Linked DNA regions of Homo sapiens: region 1 is linked to region 2. The links come from fine-mapping of genetic effects on gene expression. A gene starts in region 2. The other region holds a variant in brackets. All regions are shown on one strand. Distances are from middle to middle.

Region 1 (2,912 bases), 30 kb before region 2:
GGAGTGGTGGCACACACCTGTATTCCCAGCTACTCTGGAGGCTGAGGTGGGAGGATCACGTGAGCCCAGGAGGCTGAGGCTGCAGTGAGTCATGATTGGACCACTGCACTCCAGCCTGAGCAACAGAGTGAGACCCCGTCTCAAAAAACAACAAAAAAGTTAATTTGTTTCAGAGTATATCTGGTTCAATAAATTAATCACCAATATATAGATCATAGAAGAAAATACCTGAATATATATGTTCATTCAACAAATACTAATTGAGTATGTCTTATGTATTAGGCAGTGGACACAGCACAGGAAATATTGGTGAACAAAGCAGAACCTAGACAGCTGGCAGTCTATTATGGGGCTAGCTGAATATCTTATGTAATGTCTTGCTAAATCTTTGAGCAGAACATAGAGAAAGAAAAAGAAGAGAGGCCATCAGCTTGTGCATCAAGGAGCAAGCAAGCTTTTAGAGGACAAAGCCACATCTCTCTCACGTTTTAAATTGCATCTCCCGAACTCTCCACTGCTCTAGGTAAGCCACACATGCCTTTCAACTAGCTGTCAGAGCCCTCTTCAAGTTCTCTTTTCAGAAAGTTTTGCAAACATCTTATAAACAATTTTGCTATCCCAGAAAATGCCCAGGTACCCCTTTGAAAGAAAAGGAAAATTCCTTTGAGATATTTTTTCTCAGTAACAAGGAATGCAATTAGGCCTATACTTGGCACTCTGTCAGTTCTCATAGCCAAGAAATCTCGGGGTTAGGAGAACAAAGCTACCAAGATGCTTTTGCTATTGACTATGGCTGGCCCAAAGTTCAAGGGTTAAAGCCTGAGAATGTTTTACCCCTTTAATTTCGCACATAACTAACTTCCAAATACCAAAGCTTAGATGACCCAGAATGTAAAATCCTTTCCATTACTTTATTAAAAAATTTTGTATGCTGTGATTTACTGCTAATGCTGGTCTTTCAAAGCATTAGTCAGGACACCTACAAACCTTCCTGCAGTGGCTGCCAATAGAAGTTTAACATTTCATAGGTTAGCACTTAAAATCTGACAAATAATAAATCATCCTTGTAAACAGTGTGAGGCACTGGGTTGATAATGTATTGAGAGTTAGTTAAAAAGATGAACTATAGATTACATTATAACTCAACACTGTGGAAAACCAAGGCCAAGTAAACTAATGATCGTTATTACCATATCTGTCTCTTCAGCGATCTGCTTTCTCTAAGAAAGACATTTTCTTTTAATAGAAAAAAAATTTCACTAAGTATGAACAATATGAAATTTGGTTGTTTCATATGTACATGTGCTTGAAAAACAAGGAATCAACACTCTTCACAGCTTTAAAATGAATGATCCAAAGGGGACAATATACTAACATTTAGAACTTGTCAGGGGCAATACTGAAAGAATCGTTTGAATTGTTTTGGGAGTTATTCATCAATTTTTCAGACATATGAACATTTAAATCATTTCCATCCTTGAAATATTATTAGTAATTACTCAAGTCCTGGTAGAACAAATGTTATGTATCGGATACACATTTGGTGTGAGGAACAGCAGTACACATCTGTTTTAGAAATGGCTGTGATACAATCAAATACACTTTAATAGGTTCACAAGAGAAAAAAAAATTAAGGTCTTTTAATGGTATGATGACCTGCCTGTGATATGCAGACTTTTCCACACATTTTAACTATGAGCAGTAAGTAGCCTTTGAAATACATGACAGTAGTATCCAAGTTATTTTCTACTCACATTTTGTATGTGTCTTTTTTTT[T/A]AAATTCATATACATGTATTATTGTATTAATATGTTATATACCTTATAAAACATGGAAAAAGGATGACAGAATGAATACAATGTTTTCTAATCATAATATCTCAAGGCAATACGAACAGGACGAAGTTCATGATTAAACAAGGTGAATATAAATCCCTTAGTTTTCCAGGTATCATAAAATTTTCATGGCCAGCTTCTTGCCAGATTTGATTCAGTGGTCCCTGTCATTAACTCATAACGTGGCTGACAAAAAGTTCATGCAAAGCTTTGCCATTCTTTTTTTGCTTGCAATATTAAAATTGTCTTCAACTTATGAGAATTCTTTCCAGAATCTTTTAAAAATTCTGCTAGTTTGTGAGGTTTTGTTAAAACTAAAATATAGAATTTGTAAATCCAGTTAACTAGGCACAATATATTTCACAATATAACAAAGACAGATGGAACAGTGGGGAAGCCACTAGGAAGCCCCTGAGCTGGGCACTCCCATTCTTTGCTCAGGAGACTTCGCCTATGCCCCAGGCAATACCTAACCACCCAGATATGTGGACTCAAGGATGGTGCCAATGTCAATACAGTTGCCATCAGTTACCATAATGTTTCATGATAACAAAATGAATGTAAATGCAAGTCCTAATCAATTTCTTTTCCTACCCAAATGAGTCTTCTCAAGTGCTCCCTGGGGTGCATATCCCACTTTGGAGACCACTTTGCCATGCAGTGACACAGTCGTTCACTTCTAAAAGCCAGTTATAATCACAGAAATCTCTAGAACTAAAATCAGGTGTGAACACAAGGTGTGAACTAAGCCAGGCCAAAGAGATAGTTACTTTATCTTTTTAACTTTTTAAATTATTACTATAACTCATTAACAGGAAAGTAAATTTAAAAATTCATTTATTTTGCCCACGTCACTACCAGCCCCGTCAAAGCACACAATATTGCCAGCACCCTTGGAAGCCCTCCAGGTCCTTTCTCTTTCCTGTCTTAGAGGCAAGCACTATCTTCTTTTTTTTTTCTTTCTTTTTTTTTTGAGACAGAATCTTTGCTCTGTCGCCCAGGCCAGAGTGTAGTGGCGCAATCTCGGCTCACTGCAAGCTCTGCCTCCCGGGTTCACACCATTCTCCCGCCTCAGGTAA
Region 2 (2,912 bases):
GTTCAAAAACACACCAACCCCGCGGGAACACGAAACCTCCACTCGCGAAGACGCGACGCTTCCGCCGCATCCCCGCGCAGGTGAAGACTCGGCCCTTCAGCCCCGCGTGTGCGGCAGCATGATATTCAGAGTGCGCCGGCGTCCAGCGCGAGCGCATCCTACGACAACCCCGTCTCCCGCTGGGGTCCGCAGCCCGCGGACTCCGGGGTCCCCCCGCCCAAATGCGGCGGCGCGACCGCTTCGTCCCGCGGCCAGGGCGCTCCGCGTCTGCTCCGGCCACCCCAGCCCACCCGCGCAGCGCGGACGCCAACGCATCCCACTCCCGCTGGGCGCCAGGGGCGCGGGGTTCAGTGGGGCCGCGGCCCCCGCACCCGGCTGGGATCCGAGGGCGGGGTGGTCGCGGCTGACGTGGGCTTTGCGGCTCCGGGCCAGAGAGCAGCCTGGGGGACGGTGGGTCTCTTTCCGGCTTGGGAGGGAACGGGGGCGCCCGCGCGGGAGGACGGCAGGCGAGGGACGGCGGCCGCGGGCGATTCAGATCCGGGGCGGGCGGGTACACGTCGGAGCGCGGCGGCCACACGCTCGCCCGGGGAGCGCCACTGTGCGTCCCAGCCGGCGCCTCCTCCCGCTTGCCCGCGCCGGCTGGAGAAAGGAAGGACGGCGACCTTCGCGTCCGGTCCGCGCCACCAGCCCGCCTCGGCGCCGAGCGCGGGCCACACCCAGCGCTCCGGGAGGCGGCGGAGGCTGGGCGGCCCGGGCTGCGGAATGCTCGGCCCAGCCGAGTCTCCGTCCCGGCCGCGCAGGCCCCTCCGCGTCCGCCCGCGCCCTGCATCCCCAGCCGGCCCGGCGTGGAGGGGGTCCTGGGCTTACCTCTGTGTCGAGCGCCGGCTCCTCCGTCCCGGGCCGGAGCCGGGGCCCGGGGGCGCGGTCGCCAGGGGAGGCGCCGCGGCGGTGGCGGCCCCTGCGGCTCGGAGGGCGGGCCGAGCGGGAGCCGCTGCCTGGGCCGCGCGCCGTCCGGAGCTCGCCCCGCGCTGCCGGCGCTTGCAGCGGAGGGCGCAGCCAGCTCGGCCCCCGGACTGGATTCCTTCACTGACACAACTCCGGCTCGGCCGCCCCACGCAGGGACACTCCCGCCCCTCGCAGGCTGCCCCCGCCCGCCGACCCGCCCGCCTTCCCCTCGGTGTCACTCACCAGGAGCACACACCCCAGCCGGCGCCCCTCGCTCCCGCTCGCAAACACAGCGCTGCTCACGCCTCTCTCGGGTTTTGTATCCGCTCACACGCACGTTCTGACACAGATCTCGTCCCTCCACACGCCCTCCCTAGCTCCTTTCCCACCCCACTTTCTAGAAGAATCCCAGTACAGCTTCCGCACTTTGCTTGCTTGCTCCAGACCGACTTCCTCGCCTTTCCCCAAACCTCCACTTCACCGAAACTCCCCTTGTTAATGAAAGATTTTGTCACAATCCGCACGTGTTGCAAGAGAATCATCTTCTCCTACCCGAGAAAATGAACTTTGCTCCCTCAGCACTGTCTGCAAATACGAGATGTTTTTCCTTTTAGAAGGTAGTAATGCTTTCTGGAGAGGATCCAAGCTCAAAATGTAAGCAAAGATAGCCCATTCGAAAATGACCTGAAAAATCAGGCGCGGAAAAAGTGCTGGAGCTCGGGTCAGCCCTTGGAAACCCGACCAACCCGGGGTGTTCCGCCGCCTCCTCTGCGCTGCGGGTCTGCACACTGGGCTCCAAACGTGTGTGTAATAACCAAGTTACACATGGGCATCGTGGGCTTCAGCCGTGGGTTTCTGCCTGGGAGTACAGTAGTCGGGAGAGTAAAAGCAGTTTCTCAATCATTATTCATGATGGAAGCACTTTAGATAACACTCTTCTTCCAGAGGCAGTAGAGTGAAATGCAGGCAGCTCTCCAATTCAGGTTTTTATTTATTTATTTATTTATTTATTTATTTAGAAGGGTGACTTCTTAGCTTCCTTTTTTTTTTTTTTTTTTGGCAATACCAATAACTGTTTCTGAGTGGCTCCTTGGCTGTCAAGCTCCTTACAAATATCAGACCAGAGTTTGTTATGCTTCTCGAGCTCCAGACTCTAATGGGCCTCCGAGGGCACTGCAGAATCGTACATAATCCGATGTTCAGGAATTCATAATTTGAAATAAAATACAAACACCTTTCGGATAAAGTTCAAATCTGCTAACATAATGTGGCCCTGTTGACAACGCACTGCTGAAATAAAGAGAGGAGCTAAAACGAAAGGAATTCATTTTCTTATGTGACTTGGAGTGGTTCTTGCTACCTTATAGTCGCCTTGGATTGGTGTGTGGATAATATAATTTATTTAACAGACATTAGCAAGTGCTTTATAAGTACTAGCTCATTTAATCCTTGGAAGAACCCCATCAGGTAGGTACTACTTTTGTCCTGTTTTACAGATAAACTGAGGGCTGGGCCCAGTGGCTCACACCTGTAATCCCAACACTTTCGGAGACCGAGGTGGGCAAATCTCTTGAGCCCTGGAGATCAAGACCAGCCTGGGCAACATAGTGAAACTCCATCCCTCCAAAACAAAAAAACTAATAATAATAATTGGCCGGGCATGGTGGTGCACGCCTGTAGTCCCAGCTACTCAGGAGGCTGAGGTGGGAGGATTACCTGAACCAGGTAGGCTAAGGTTGCAGTGAGCCAGGATCACACCCCTGCGCTCTAGTGTGGGCAACAGAGCCAGAGCCTTTAAAAGAAAAGAAAGAAAGAAACTGAGGCACAGAGAGGTGAAATAAGTTGCCTAAGTTTTTAGCTAGTAAGTGGTAAAGGAAGAATTTGAACCTAGACCGTTGGACCCTGCCTGTGCTACAGAGAGGAAAGCTTGCTTCTAGAAGCCATACCACACATAAAGAACAAACATC

The links. PIP is the estimated chance that this variant, and not a neighbour inherited with it, causes the effect. A credible set is the group of variants that fine-mapping cannot tell apart.
Region 1: its variant is the best candidate, but not a certain one, in a credible set for the expression of SPATS2L in lung (TOPMed, PIP 0.64).

The regions. Positions count from the first base shown.
Region 1 is chr2:200,335,273-200,338,184 of GRCh38, reverse strand. The region is part of intron 2 of SPATS2L (spermatogenesis associated serine rich 2 like); the gene reads right to left. Among named protein-coding and RNA genes, the nearest start is that of SPATS2L, 30 kb to the right of the region's middle. The variant T/A (reference allele first, on the strand shown) is at 1,777.
Region 2 is chr2:200,304,878-200,307,789 of GRCh38, reverse strand. SPATS2L (spermatogenesis associated serine rich 2 like) reads right to left here and starts at 1,097. Exons shown (of 13, transcript NM_001100423.2): 1 at 868-1,097. RefSeq lists silencers at 133-462, 483-1,212 and an enhancer at 1,623-1,722.